Homo sapiens: one gene and its partner. The protein of the gene in region 2 interacts with the protein of the main gene of each other region in a pairwise test. Each region holds a gene or a part of one and is shown on either strand. Other genes may lie near its edges.

What was found. Proteins that work in one complex are often made in the same cells at the same time.
Region 1: the proteins of ZNF699 (region 2) and HRC interact in binary tests that used the Homo sapiens proteins (3 or more experiments, as listed by UniProt).

The regions. Positions count from the first base shown.
Region 1 is NC_000019.10:49,152,397-49,159,498, forward strand, and holds the start of HRC (sarcoplasmic reticulum histidine-rich calcium-binding protein precursor), read right to left. Parts: upstream 3,001-7,102; 5' UTR 2,842-3,000; coding exon 1,011-2,841; intron 936-1,010; coding exon 865-935; intron 1-864. UniProt on the Homo sapiens protein: May play a role in the regulation of calcium sequestration or release in the SR of skeletal and cardiac muscle.
Region 2 is NC_000019.10:9,306,838-9,314,713, forward strand, and holds the start of ZNF699 (zinc finger protein 699), read right to left. Parts: upstream 3,002-7,876; 5' UTR 2,513-3,001; intron 1-2,512. UniProt on the Homo sapiens protein: May be involved in transcriptional regulation.

The sequences.
Region 1 (7,102 bases), about 40 Mb from region 2:
TGGTTAGATGGAAACTCTAACGCCACTTGGGAGGTACCCGCCCCTGGCCCACCCCTGCACCCTGGACGCTTCCCCAGACTCTACCCTCTTTATCTCTAACACTGAGCTCTGTATCTGCCCCCCAAACCAGCCTCCCCTCCCCTCCCCTGCCCCTGGTTTCCTTCCTTTCCCTTTTTTTCCTTTTTTTTCTTGAGGCGGAGTCTCTCTCTGTCGCCCAGGCTGGAGTGCAGTGGCGCAACCTCAGCTCACTGCAACCTCCGTCTCCCGGGTTCAAGCGATTCTCCTGCCTCGGCCTCCTGAGTAGCTGGGATTACAGGTGCGTGCCACCACGCCCGGCTAATTTTTTTGTATTTTTTAGTAGAAATGGGGTTTCACCGTGTTAGCCAGGATGGTCTCGATCTCCTGACCTCGTGTTCCGCCCACCCTGGCCTCTTAAAGTGCTGAGATTACAGGCGTGAGCCACCACACCCGGCCCTGCCCCTGGTTTTCTATCTCAGGGCGACCCCATGTCTCCCTGTCAGGGTGGGCTCAGGTGCTCTCTCCACCCGCTCTCTGCCTATTCTCCCCCTAGCCTATCAGCCCCTGTGCCATCCCTCCTTCCCCCGACTCTCTTTGCCACAGACCCCTGTCTCTGTCCCCACACCCCAAGATGCAGCTTGGGTCTTGTCCTCTCCTTCCTGGACCACTGCCCCAGCCTCCCAGCCTTCAGTCTGTCCTCACCTCACATGCCTGCAGAAGGATCTCTTTTCTTTCAGAACTGACCCTGGCCTGCCCTTGCTCTGAGCCCTCCCACAGCACCACCCCAGGGCCCCTGGGACAGATTCTGGGGACACCTTGGTGGGTGGATCTGGGCTGGGGACATACATTGCAGAAGGAGCAGTAGCCACACAGGGACCCTGGCTGGTAGTTCCCATACTCCTGAGCATCCTGTGGACCTGCGGGGACAGGAGGGCAGCAGTGACCCAGGCTGACTCGGTTCCTTCCCACCCACACCAGCCCAGGCCACTTACCTGTGTCCTCACCGCTTTCCTCCTCGCTGGAGGCACCTCCAGCCTCCTCTCTCCTGTCCAGTGGGTTGGGGATGATGGTGAAGCGGGGCTCATCTTCCTCCAGCCCCTCCTCCTCCTCCTCTTCCTCCTCGCTGTGGTCTGGGCTCAGTGGGGCCCCAACCTCAGCCCTCTCTTCCCTCCTCTCCTCGTCTTCTTCCTCCTCCTCCTCCTCCTTGTCTTCCTCTTCTTCCTCCTCCTGGTTCAGGCTGAGGCCATGACCTTCCTCCTCATCCTCCTCATCTTCCTGGTCCCGGCTGCCATGATGGGTGCCTTTCTCTCCCTGCTCTGAACTTTCATCGTCTTCCTCATGGGAGCCGGGGTCCTCTTCCTTCTCCTTTTCCTCCTCAGAATCATCCTTCCTCAAATGGCTTCTATCCTTGACCACTGTGTGTCCTGGGGGGTGATGGCTCATCTCTTTGATGGACCCTCTTTGACCATGGCCAGTTTCTTCATCTTGGTGGCTTTGCCTGTGGCTGGGGGCCTGGTGGCCAAGCTCAGCAGAGACCTCCTCATCTTCCTCCCTGGGGACTCTGTGGTGGTGATGGTGAGGGACTTCTGTTTTATACTCATCTTGGAAGTCCTCTTCATCACTCTTGTGGCCTCGAGGTTGGTGGCTTGCAACATAGTGGCCGAACTGGACTGTGATCTCCTCTTCTTCCTCTTCCTCATCTACAAGGCCATGGTGGACATGTTGGGGACCCTGGTGCCAACGTTCAGTGGACACATCCTCATCTTCTTCCTCGTCTCTGTGGCCTTGGTGCCTGTGGTCAGGGACATGATGGTGGTGTTCACCTGAGACAGCCTCAACCTCTTCCTTTCTGTGGTCTTGGTGCCTGTGGGCCTGGTGTCCATACTCAGTGGAGACATCATCATCATCATTGTCATCTTCTTCATGGCTTCGGTGCCTGTGGCTGGGGTCGCGATGATGGTGTCCATCTGAGACATCTTCATCCTCTTCAATCCCGTGGCCTTGGTGCCTGTGAGCCTGGTGTCTATATTCAATGGAGACATCATCATCATCATCATCATCATCATCATCATCATCATCATCGTCATCTTCTTCATGGCCTTGGTGCCTGTGGCTGGGGCCATGATGATGGTGTCCATCTGAGACATCCTCATCCTCTTCACTCCCATGGCCTCGGTGCCTGTGGGCCTGGTGTCCATACTCAGTGGAGGCCTCCTCTTCCTCCTCCTCCTCCTCCTCCTCCTCTTCTCCTTCATCATCTTCCCCATCATGGCCTCGGTGTCCATGCCTGAGGATATGATGGTGATGCTCACTGGACACAACTTCATCCTCATCCTCGTCTTGATGGCTGTGGCTCCTGTGGCTGGGGAGGTGGTGCCTGTGCTCAGCTGAGTCTTCCGTGTCTTCACTCCCGTGGCCTCTGTGCCCACGGGCCTGCCCACCATGCTCTGCAAAGACCTCCTCACCTGAGACACCCTCATCTCCGACTTTGTGGTCTTGGGACCTGTGGCCTGGGAGTAGGTGCCCATATTCCTTGGAGACATCTTCATCCTCCTTTTCACGGTCTGGGTGGCTCCAGAAATGATGCCCATTCTCTGTGGAAACATCCTTGTTCTCATCTGGATGGTCTCTAGGGCTGTGGAGGTGGTGGCGAAGCTCTGCTGATGCCTCCTCGGAGAGCCCGGCGACTCCAGTGCTGTTGTTCCGGTTTCTGAAGCCTAGCCCATCCCCTCTGAGCTGCTGGGTCATGGCCGGGGGGAGGAGCAGGCTGGCCACCCCAGCCCAGAGGACAGAAGCGTGCAGCCATGGCCTATGGTGGCCCATGGGGACGGACAGGCAGCACTGGCTCCAGCTGCCTCTGCGGCAATGTGGACAAACGTTGGGGTCTTTGTCCCTTTGGGGTTGGTCTCTTTTTTTCTCTGTGTCTCTCCTTTGTCCTTTCGGTCTCTGTCCACCTTCCTCTGGTCCTTGCTGCCTGGCTCTGGACACCCCTCTGAGGCTGTCTCCGGAGCCCCCTGACCCCCCTCTGGGGCCCTCCCTCCCCATTCCCCAGCCAATAGGGTCCTTCCCCTCCCCTCTCTCCAGCTAAATTTACTCTCAGCCCTGAGTTATTCTGGGTCAGTCCCCGCCTGCCTGCCTCCTGCTCCTCCTCCTCCCAGCTGGGGAGGGGACCAGTGAGGGGTCTCTCCCTGGCCAGGAGACGGTGGCCAAGGGACTTGACTTTGAACTACCAACAAGCTCACGTTTGGCAGCTGCAAAGACAAAGGCTAGACTTTTAGCAGGTTTTTGGGGGAGCCTGGGGCACCTGGGGGAGGCAGAAGAGACTTATCAGAGGGGAGAGACTCCTGGGACGGAAGGACTGGGGGTTCGATTGCGGGGTGTTTCCAGCTGGAATGATACGTGCTGGTGAGAGAGTGATGTCAGTATTGAGGCCCTAGAATGGGGGGAAAGGAACATGGCCCCCAACACACGTGCCCATGACCTCCTGTCCCTGGAACTCAGATCTGGGGGCAGGGACTGGGCTAGGCCAGGGCTATAAATACAGCTGGGAGGGGTAGGGGGACTCAGGTTACGGAGGCCACAGCTGTCCCCATCACAGAGGGCTGGCAGGAGACAAGTGGCCTTGCCCGTCTCTGTGTGTCAGTATTTCCTACTCCTCACCCTTCATGACTGCCCCCACTAGGGTCTCCTTTCCTGTTCACGGGTCCTCCTCTCTCTTCAATTCTGTCATCTGCTCTCTCAGGGTCCCTGTCCCTCCTCCATGGGATTGCCTCTCCCTCTCACTCTGGGCTTCTGTCCCACTCTTATCTTAGTGTCAGTCCTCCCCCAAGTCTGTGTCCCTCTCTCTCCCCTAAATCTCTGGCCCCTCCTTTCTGAGTTCCTGCCCTTCCCCCAATTCTTTGGTTTTTGCATCCCCCTCTGCCCCTTGCCTCAGTCAAGGTGTCTCCTCCCCATCTCTGGCATCCACCTCTCTGGGTCTCTGTCCCCACTCTCTCTCAGAGTCTCTGTCCCCCTCTGTCTCAGAGTCTCTGTCCACCTCTCCCTGGGTCTCTGTCCCCCTCTCTCTGGGTCTCTGTCCCCCTCTCCCTGGGTCTCTGTCCCCCTCTCTCTGTGGATCTCTGTCCCCCTCTCTCTGGGTCTCTGTTCCCCTCTCTCTGTGGGTCTCTGTCCCCCTCTCTCTGTGGATCTCTGTCCCCCTCTCTCTGGGTCTCTGTTCCCCTCTCTCTGTGGGTCTCTGTCCCCCTCTCTCTCTGGGTCTCTGTTCCCCTCTCTCTGGGTCTCTGTCCCCCTCTCTCAGGGTCTCTGTCCCCCTCTGTCTCAGAGTCTCTGTCCCCCTCTCTCTGGGTCTCTGTCCCCTCTCCCTGGGTCTCTGTACCCCTCTCCGTGGGTCTCTGTCCCCTCTCCCTGGGTCTCTGTCCCCCCATCCCTGGGTCTCTGTCCCCCCCTCTCTGGGTCTCTGTCCCCCTCTCTCTGGGTCTCTGTCCTCCTCTCTCTCTGGGTCTCTGTTCCCCTCTCTCTGGGTCTCTGTCCCCCTCTCTCTGGGTCTCTGTCCCCGTCTCTCTGGGTCTCTGTCCCCCTCTCTCTGGGTCTCTGTCCTCCTCTCTCTCTGGGTCTCTGTTCCCCTCTCTCTGGGTCTCTGTCCCCCTCTCTCTGGGTCTCTGTCCCCGTCTCTCTGGGTCTCTGTCCCCCTCTCTCTGGGTCTCTGTCCCCCTCTCTCTGGGTCTCTGTCCCCTCTCCCTGGGTCTCTGTCCCCCTCTCCGTGGGTCTCTGTCCCCTCTCCCTGGGTCTCTGTCCCCCCCTCCCTGGGTCTCTGTCCCCCCCTCTCTGGGTCTCTGTCCCCCCCTCTCTGGGTCTCTGTCCTCCTCTCCCTGGGTCTCTGTCCCCCTCTCTCTGTGGGTCTCTGTCCCACTCTCTCTGGGTCTCTGTCCCACTCTCTCTGGGTCTCTGTCCCCTCTCCCTGGGTCTCTGTCCCCCTCTCTCTGTGGGTCTCTGTCCCCCTCTCTCTCTGTCTATCCCTGGGTCCCTGCTGCCCCACCTTCTGATTCTCTGTCCCCTAAGTCTTTGTCTCCCCCTCTTTGGGTTAAATTGTCCCCTCCCTGTCTGGCATCCTCCTTTCTGAGTCTGTTCCCTCTCCGCCACTGGCCCCCAACTCCTTCTGTTCCCATCTCGCGCTTGCCCTTGGAGTCTCCCCTGTGTGTCTCTCTCCCCCCGGCCCGGACCTCTGCACCCCCCAGGTCGCTGTCCCTCTGTCCCCTTATCGCGGCCTGGGACCCGCCCTCTCCCCGCCTCCCGCTTTGGCGTCTCCAAGACTCCCCGCCCCCCAGACCTCGCCCCGCCCCAGGCTAGGCTGGAAAGTGGAGGATCCGGTTTGCTCTGGGCGGGTCTGGAAGCAGAGCCGGCGGAGGGAGCGCCGGGGCCCTGGGCTGCAGGAGGTTGCGGCGGCCGCGGCAGCATGGTGGTGCCGGAGAAGGAGCAGGTGAGCGCCGGACCAGGGTCTGCGGGAGCGCGGAGCTGGGGACCTCGCCTCCAGGCTCCCAGAGAGGAGGGCGCTGGACACCCAGATTCCTGGGTCAGACGGAGGAGGGGGATGGGAGGGTCCAGGTTCCAGGGTCCAGGGCATGGGGGTCGAGACTCCTGAGTCTGGAGCGGGAGGGCGCTGGGGGCCCGGACTCCTGTGTCCGTGGGGAGCGCACGGGGTGGGTGGCTCTGTGTCCCATAGGACAGAACTGGGTGCCCTCTCACCCCACTTCCACCCCTACATTTGTTCCTGTCCCCAGAGCTGGATCCCCAAGATCTTCAAGAAGAAGACCTGCACGACGTTCATAGTTGACTCCACAGATCCGGGGTGAGGAGTTCGCCCCTGGACTGACCCCAGAGGGTCCGCGGCCCGCTGACCCCGCCCGCGGATGGTCACGCCCCAGCCCTGCTCCTTCCCCATTCCTGGACTCGGGGACCTTCCCAAGGGCGTTCCTTGCCGACGCTCTCCCTCTAGGAGCGTTTGGGTCTGTGTAGACACCCCTCATTCCCCATTCGCCATTCTCCCGCTCAGGGTCAGTGTAGACGCTCCAGGGCTCGGTTCTGCTTCTTTCCTCCCCGATGTCTCTTCTATGTGCTTCTGTCTCTTCGTGTCACTTTCTGTGTCTCTGTCTTTCCCTTTTGGGTATTTCTGTTTCATTCATTCATTCATTCATTCATTCATTCATTCATCCATCCATGCAAGAAACCCTCACTCAGCGCTCCCAAGGTCCCTTTAGCCTAATTCAACGGCCCTGCCAGGGTTCCAATTTCCCCTGGGACACGTGCTGTGTGGCTTCGGGCAAATCATTTCACCTCTCTGGGTCCCGTTTCTCATCTGGGCATCAAAAGAGGCTTGATCTCCTGGGGTTATTATGAGAATTAAACAAGTTAATGCTTGTGATATTCCTGGCACAGCGCCCAGCACAGGACGCTGGGAAATATCTGCAGCTCCCACTGGGAGGTGGCAATTATTACCGCGGGCGGGCCCTGTCTTGGTGGCCGGGGACACCAATTGAGCTAGATAGGGTGTGTGCGTCCGCGAGGAGCTCCCGCCCTTCAGTGACGGCCTCTCAAGCGGATCCAGGCTTTCTAGTTTTTTTTTTTTTTTTTTTTTTTTTGAGACGGTGTCTCGCTCTGTCCCCCAGGCTGGAGTGCAGTGGCGCGATCTCGGCTCACTGCAAGCTCCGCCTCCCGGGTTCACGCCGTTTTCCTGCCTCAGCCTCCCGAGTAGCTGGGACTACAGGCGCCCGCCACCACGCCCGGCTAATTTTTTGTATTTTAGTAGAGACGGGGTTTCACCGTGTTGGCCAGGATGATCTCGATCTCCTGACCTTGTGATCCGCCCGCCTCAGCCCCTCAAAGTACTGGGATTACAGGCGTGAGCCATCGCGCTGGGCCAATTTTTTGTATTTTTTTTTTAGTAGAGACGGGGTTGCACCGTGTTAGCCAGATGGTCTCGATCTCCTGACCTCATGATCCGCCGGCCTCGGCCTCCCAAAGCGCTAGGATTACAGGTGTGAGCCACCGCACCTGGCCCAGGCTTTCTAGTTTTTTGTTTTTTGTTTTT
Region 2 (7,876 bases):
TCCCTAGTTTTACCAGGATTTAGCCTAGAACCCTATTGGGCACTACAGAGAGTGGACAAATGAAGCATTCTAATCAAATATGCTGTGCGTGGTAGCTCATGCTTGTAATCCCAGCACTTTGGGAGACCAAGGTCGGGGGAATCACATGAGGTCAGGAGTTCAAGACCAGCCTGGCCAAAATGGCGAAACCCTGTCTCTACTAAAACTACAAAAATCAGCCGGGCATGGTGGCGCACAGCTGTAGTCCCAGCTACTCAGGAGGCTGAGGCAGGAGAATTGTGTGAACTCAGGAGGCAGAGGTTGCAGTAAGCCGAAATCACACCACTGCACTCCAGCCTGGGCAACAGAGCCAGACTCTGTCTCAAAATAAATAAAATAAATAAATAATCAAATATGTTATCTTTGAGCTCCTTTTCCTAAGGCCTATGTCTTGGGCAACGATGCTTCCCTTATAGCCCTTACCTCCTTCGTTTCATGTTTATTTAGGTGACATTTATCCTGACCCTACTACATGAAGTCACAAGGAATAAGGCATAGAAAAATAAAAAAGAAAAATCCTGAAGCAAATGAATGTTATAATATTTTGGGTAAGACATTAAACAAAATACATCAGGTAGAGATACATGCTATATAAAAAATGTAGCACATTATAGGGATAAGGAGACACGTAACATATTTATCTTTAGCAAGTCAGGACAGGTAATGTGGCAGGGTAGAAGCAGAAAATTAAAATAACTATTTCAGATCATGCTGGAATTTCAGAGGGTTTAGTATATCTATTATATATTTATAAGCATTATCAACTCCTAGAGGAAAAAAAATCAGTACTGGCCAGGCACGGTGGCTCACACCTGTAATCCCAGCACTTTGGGAGGCCAAGGTGGGTGGATCACAAGGTCAGGAGTTCAAGACCAGCCTGGCCAAGATGGTGAAACCCACCTCTACTAAAAATACAAAAAAATTAGCTGGGCATGGTGGCAGGTGCCTGTAATCGCCACTACTTGGGAGGCTGAGGCAGAGAATTGTTTGAACCCAGGAGGCAGAGGTTGCAGTGAGCCAAGATCACGCCACTGCACTCCAGCCTGGGAGACACAGCGAGACTCTGTCTCAAAAAAAAAAAAAAAAATCGGTATTAATAGGCTAGACTATTGATATATAAAGTTGAATAAAGACCAGCATAAAAGTTTAGAAAGAAAATAGAAAATAATCTTTTTTAAAACATAGTAAACAAAATCAGAAAAGCTAAAAAAGCATCCTTTGCAAAAAGAAAAACTAATGAAACTGACAAACTCAGCTTTTTAAAAAAATTTTTTAATTTAATTTATTGTTTAAGACAGACTCTTTATGTTCCCAGGTTGATCTCATTTCCTAGGCTCAAGCGATCCATCTGCCTTAGCTTCCCACCAGCTGGGACTACAGATATGCGCCACTGCAGCCAGCAACAGACTCAGCAATTTTAAGAGCAACAGGGCATAAACAACAACAACAAAAAAAAAATGAACAAGAATTAATCATAATTACAGATATCATAAGGAGAATATAGAAAAAATTTAAGGAATAAATATGAAGATGCACAGGTAATTAATGAATTTCTAGAAAGTAGTACAACTTTCAAGCAGTGATCTAAAACCTGATTACACCCAGTAATTAAAGAAAAAAAAATCAGCGGTTTAAAACACGGTCAGGCCGGGTGCAGTGGCTCATGCCTGTAATTCCAGCACTTTGGGAGGCGGAGAGCCCATGAGTTCGAGACCTGCCCGGGCAACAGAGCGAGACTCCTATTTTCTAAAAAGAAATAGGAATAAAGAAAGGAAAAAAACCTACAAACACCTACAGCAAACATCCTATTTAATGGTGAAATGATAGAATAATTCCCTCTGGAATCAGAAACAAGACAGGATGTAAATTACATGCTATTCTGTCGGACATTGTACTGGAGGTCCTGGCAAGTGCAGTAAAGAAATGAAAAGAAATGGAAACTGCAAGGAATAAAAAGGGAAAAGATTGAAACTGACAGATGACCAAATTTTCTGTGTGAAATTTAACCAATCTATAGACAAATGATTCAAATGCATCATTAATGACAAAATGCATCAGTTCACTTTCACTTGAATATAATGTATCAAACTGATGTCCACAGGCAGAATATAATATCCAGAGACCAAATACTATCTTTTTGTTTTTTTGAGACAGTGTCTCGCTCTGTTGCCCAGGCTGGAGTGCAGTGATGCGATCTCAGCTCACTGCAACCTCTGCCTCCCGAGTAGCTGGGAACACAGGAGAGCACCTTTTATTTTACTTTTTTTTTTTTTTTTTTTTTTGGTAGAGACGGGATCTTGCTATGTTGCCCAGGCTGGCCTCAAACTCCTGGGCTCAAGCGATCCGCCCGCCTCGGCCGCCCAAAGTGCTGGGATTACAGGCGTGAACCACCGCGCTTGGCCCAAACACTACCTAATGCATAAAGAGGGGACAGGAGGGGACCGAGCCGAGGCAAATGTCACCCCGTGCTCACCCGACACGCCGCGATCCACAGATCAGCTCACAGAGAACGAGGCTGAAGCGCTTGTCCTTGAGACACGAATGGCAGAGATGCTCTTCCTTTCTGGAAAGAGAGCAAAGGATGCTTTCGGAGGCTGATGAACTACGACATTGGTTCTCCAACTCTCGCCTGCATCAGAATCACCCCGATTTCTGTACCCAGACCAGAGTTCCCGATTCAGTGAGTTTGGGACCAGCCGCGGCCACAGGGGCAGCTGACCCGGGCTCTCTGAGGAGGCGCCGCGGCGGCGGGAGGCCCCGGGCGCGGGGTCCGGACAAGGAGTGGCGGGGAGGCAGCCCTTAGACCGCCGATTCCCAAACCCAGCCCTCGGTCTCCCGCGGACCCGACCCGGGGCAGGCAGGGCGGGGCGGGGCAGGGCAGGACAGGAAGCGGGCGGAGGCAAAAATGTTCCTCAGACGCGGGCGGAGGCGTAGGGTGACAAGGCTGTCGACTCGCGCATGCGCAGAAGCACACTTCTGATTCCTCTTTCGGCGCTGCAAATGGCGTATGGGGCGGGGCCTGGGAAGCGGGACTTGAGGTGAAGGGGGTGGAGCAGGTAGGAGCGGGATGCAAAGGAGCGCCAAGGCTGGTTCCAGCCGCAAGTGGATGAGAAATCCTAGTTTCTTCATGATTTGGAGTAAACAGAGAAGAAACAGAACCCTGAACTGGACTTGCATGACTCGGCCTGAGGGGCGGAACTGGGGCTAGACCTAGGGGCGTGGCCTTTTAAATACTCCAAGGGGCGGGGCTAAAGGTGGAACCAGATTGGGAGCGGGGCTTGGTAGAAATTCCTAGGGGGCGGAGACGAGGGCTGGGCGGGGCTTAAGTGACAAGGCCTAGGGATGGGGCTAAGGCTAGGGCTTCCCATCCAGGTTCTCAGCTACCACGGATACAGGATGCTCATCGATCGGGTTTCTACCTATCCTCCACGTTGCTACAGTCCTGTACACAGGACACATATATTTGCAGCTCTAATAGGAAACAGACTCTCCTTGACACTCACTCAGTCCTTTTGGGCCTTTTAGTTTTCCCTTTCATTGTTGTATTGATAACTTCTCCTGTAGAGGGAAGCCATTGATAATTATTTAAATAGAACCTTTTTCCTGGAAACTTGCTGAATTCTGATAGCTGTCAGTTTATTATTTGAACCATCAAATATAAATATTTTCTCTGCATATTTTCATTGTTTTAATGTGTATAACTCATTTCTTTATGTGAGGCAATGTCTCATTCTATCGCCTAGACTGGAGTGCAGTGGCGCGACCATGGCTCACTGCAGCCTTGACTTCCCCAGCTCAAGTGATGGTCCCATCTCAGCCCCCCAAGTAGCTGAGAATACAGTCGCGTACCACCCCACCCAGCTATTTTCTTTATTTTTTTGTAGAGATGGGATCGCACTATGTTGCTGAAGCTGGTCTCAAACTCCTGAGCTCAAGCTATCCTCTCACCTCAGCCTCCCAGAGTGCTAGGGGTACAGGTGTAAGCCACCACACCCAGAGTCATTTCTTTTTCTTATTGTTTGTTTAGGGCTTCCTCAACTATAAGTCGGAAAGAAATTAAGCATTCTTGTCTTGGTCGGTAATGATTACCAAAGTTCCTCAGTAAGCTGTTTACAACAGGTTGCACCTCTTATCAAGTTAATCTTTTTAAACCAGGTTTATAAAGATATTTTATCAATAATTTTTTATGAACACTATCAAATGTTTATGCAACAATTGAGTTGATAACATAATTTTGCTCCTCTTAGTTTATAATATGATATCCATATAAAATATTTAATTTTAGGCAAGGCGCAGTGGCTCATGCCTGTAATCCCAGCACTTTGGGAGGCCGAGGCCGGTGGATTACCTGAGGTCAGGTGTTCAAGACCAGCCTGGCTACCATGGTGAAACCCCATCTCTACTAAAAATACAAAAAATTAGCTGGGCATGGTGGCGGGTGCCTGTAATCCCAGCTACTCAGGAGGCTGAGGCAAGGAGAATCGCTTGAACCTGGGAGGCAGAGGTTGCAGTGAGCTGAGATCGCGCCATTGCACTCCAGCCTGGGCGACAATAGAAAGACTCCATCTCAAAAATATATATATTCAATTTTATATATCCCCAATGAATCTATACTTTTAGTAAAATGGTTTCTGAGTTTCCTAGTTTGCTTTTAAATGTCTCCCCAAACTCTAAAATATAAAAATACTTCCTAATTTACTTCCAAATTGTACTGCTTTTTAAAACGTATAATTCTTTACTGCTCAGGGAATGTATTTTGGTATAATATGAGGTAGAGATGTGTTATATAAGTGAACCACAGGTGGCCTTTCTGTATTGGTCCCTAGGTTGTTCATTACTTCTTCACTGCGGCTTGAGGTCACCTTCCCAATGCCTGTCCCTGGTGCCCTAGCCAGCTCCCTTTCATCATCTATGTTTTTTAAGTGTAAATCTTTTTCTATTATGAAGCATTATGTTCTCATTGTAGTTTTTTATTTTAAAGGAAAAGTATAAGGAAAAGACAAACAACATTCAGAATCCCAGCAGTGTTTGAATTTTCTGTATTTCCTTTCTGCCTTCTTTGTACGCGTGGGTGGCAAGCCACCCAGGTGCCAAGGCAAGAGACCGAGGGCACAAGCTGTTCCAGTATAATAAAGAAAATATATAGAATAAGAGTAGTTATACTAGAAATAGATTATAGATATGATTGTATATATCATTAATCATTTGTAGCATTACTCTTTATTCCAATATTATAATAATCTTTGTTCTACAATCATAACCTAGGAAAAACCAGGCCATACAGAGATAGGAGCTGAAGGGACATGGTGAGAAGTGACCAGAAGACAAGGGTGAGCCCTCTGTTATGCCTGGACAGAGCCACCAGAGGGCTCCCTGGTCTAGCGGTAATGCCAGCCCCTGGGAAGGAGCCCGTTACCTAGCGGACCTTGGTCTAGCAGTAGCGTCAGTGCCTGGGGAAGGCACCCATTGCTTAGCAGACAGGGAAAGGGAGTCTCCCTTTCCCCGGGGGAGTTAGAGAAGACTCTGCTCACTACCTCTTGCGGAAAGCCTGACATCAGTCAGGCCCGCCCGCAGCCATCCAGAGGCCTAAACGTCTCCCTGTGATGCCGTGCTTCAGTGGTCACACTCCTGGTCCACTTTCATGTTCCACCCTGTACACCTGGTTCTGCCTTCTAATCAGCAGTAGCGGAATTAGTGAAAGTACTAAAGTCTTTGAAATGCATAGAAGAAATAATGGCGTAAGCTGTCCTCTCTCTCTCTCCACCTCAGCTGCCAAACAGGGAAGGGCCCCCTGTCTGGTGGACACGTGACTCGCGTGACCTTACCTATCATTGGAGATGGCTCACACTCCTTACCCTCCCTCCTTGTCTTGTATCCAATAAATAACAGTGCAGCCAGGCATTCGGGGCCGCTACTGGTCTCTGCACCTTGGTGGTAGTGGTTCCCCGGACCCAGCTGTCTTTTTGTCTATCTCTTTGTCTTGTGTCTTTATTTCTATGATCTCTTGTCTCCACACACGAAGAGAAAAACCCACAGACCCAGTAGGGCTGCTTCCTACAGTACGCATAACAGTAGGTTTTTTTATTGTTTGTTTGTTTTTGACTCAGTCTCGCTCTGTCGCCCAGGCCGGAGTGCAGTGGTGCAATCTCAGCTCATTGCAACCTTCACCTCCTGGGTTCAAACAATCCTCCTGCCTCAGCCTCCCGAGTAGCTGGGATTACAGGCATGTGCCACAACACCCGGCTAATTCTGTATTTTTAGTAGAGATGGAGTTTCTCCATGTTGGTCAGGCTGGTCTCGAACTCCTGACCTCAGGTGATCCACCTGCCTTGACCTCCCAAAGTGCTGGGATTACAGGTGTGAGCCACCATGCCCGGCCAATCAGAAGTAATTTCAATTTTTCATCTGCCATGCAAAAAAGGTGAGGGATTGCAAAGGCAATAGCCTCTGGTCCTTTTGTTACTTGGGCATGGAAAGTGGGGTTTCCTTTTGATCTAGTTCTAGAAAGTCAGCGTGATTGGCCTTAGGTTCCCTTCCTCTAGACCCTATTCTACCTCAACACTGAAACTTGGAAAGGAAGCTTCTTCCTCCTTCCTTGTCTTCCAGCACCCTACACTGGTAATGGGTAAAAGAGAAATATTTATAAGGCCCATCTCCATTATCACAAAGCAGAAAAAAAGGACAAATTTGTAGCATAAGTAATAAATCTATAACTAGGACAGTGGTCAAAGCATGTTTTGCCTTGGTTTTCCTTTACTGACAGACCAGGTCCTAGCAACACCAAGAATTGGTTCATGGTATCCAGACTGCTTTTCCTCCCAATTTGTGGCAGGTCAATTCTCCCTGACAATCACACAGACAGGCCTGCATGACAGTCACACAGACAGACCTGCACAGCACTTCTGTTACACAGACAAATTTCCACAAAACTGCCTTAACATTGAGCAAATAGTTAAATCTAGGGAAATCAGTGCCCAGACATCAAAGCTAGAAATGAAACACATGGTCAGTTGAAGCTTCACACGGGCTTCTCCCTAACCTGGAGCAAGCCAAAATAATACAGACAGTCTTACATTCCTAGTACCAGCACGTGTCTCAGGTGGACGAAATCTGAGATGAGTCAAGATAACAGAGGCAGCTGTTTGAATAGATTCACTGGAGAGTCTAAGGCAGCTCTCTGGACCCAAGCTGTAAAGGAGATAATGTGTCCAGAGTTGGTTCCTGCTGGTGGGTTTGTGGTCTTGCTGACTTCAAGAATGAAGCTGCGGACCTTTGCAGTGAGTGTTACAGCTCTTAAAGATGGCATGGACCCAAAGAGTGAGCAACGTTTATTGTGAAGAGCGAAAGGACAAAGCTTCCACAGCGTGGAAGGTGACCCTAGCGGGTTGCCTTGCTGGCTGGGGGGGGGTGGCCAGCTTTTATTCCCTTATCGACCCCTCCCATGTTCCGTTTCTGTCCTATCAGAGTGCCCTTTTTTCAATCCTCCCTGTGATTGGCTACTTTTAGAATCCTGCTGATTGGTGCGTTTTACAGAGTGCTGATTGGTGCATTTTACAATCCGCTTGTAAGACAGGAAAGTTCCCCAAGTCCCCACTCAACTCAGGAAGTCCAGCTGGCCTCACCTCTCAATTATCCCTCTAAACAGGTCACCCAACAGCTGTTGGGAACTGGGTGATGACCGCTCTGGGCTACTTCCTGCCGGATAGGGGTGAAGAAGGGGCCCTGCAGTTGTAGTGTCCTCCAGAGGGGAACTCTCTAGGCCAGTGAAAGGGCCAGTGGGTCAGTCCAGGGGTCCTCAGTAGAAGTTCTGAGTTGAGCTCATTTGGGGTTCCATTTG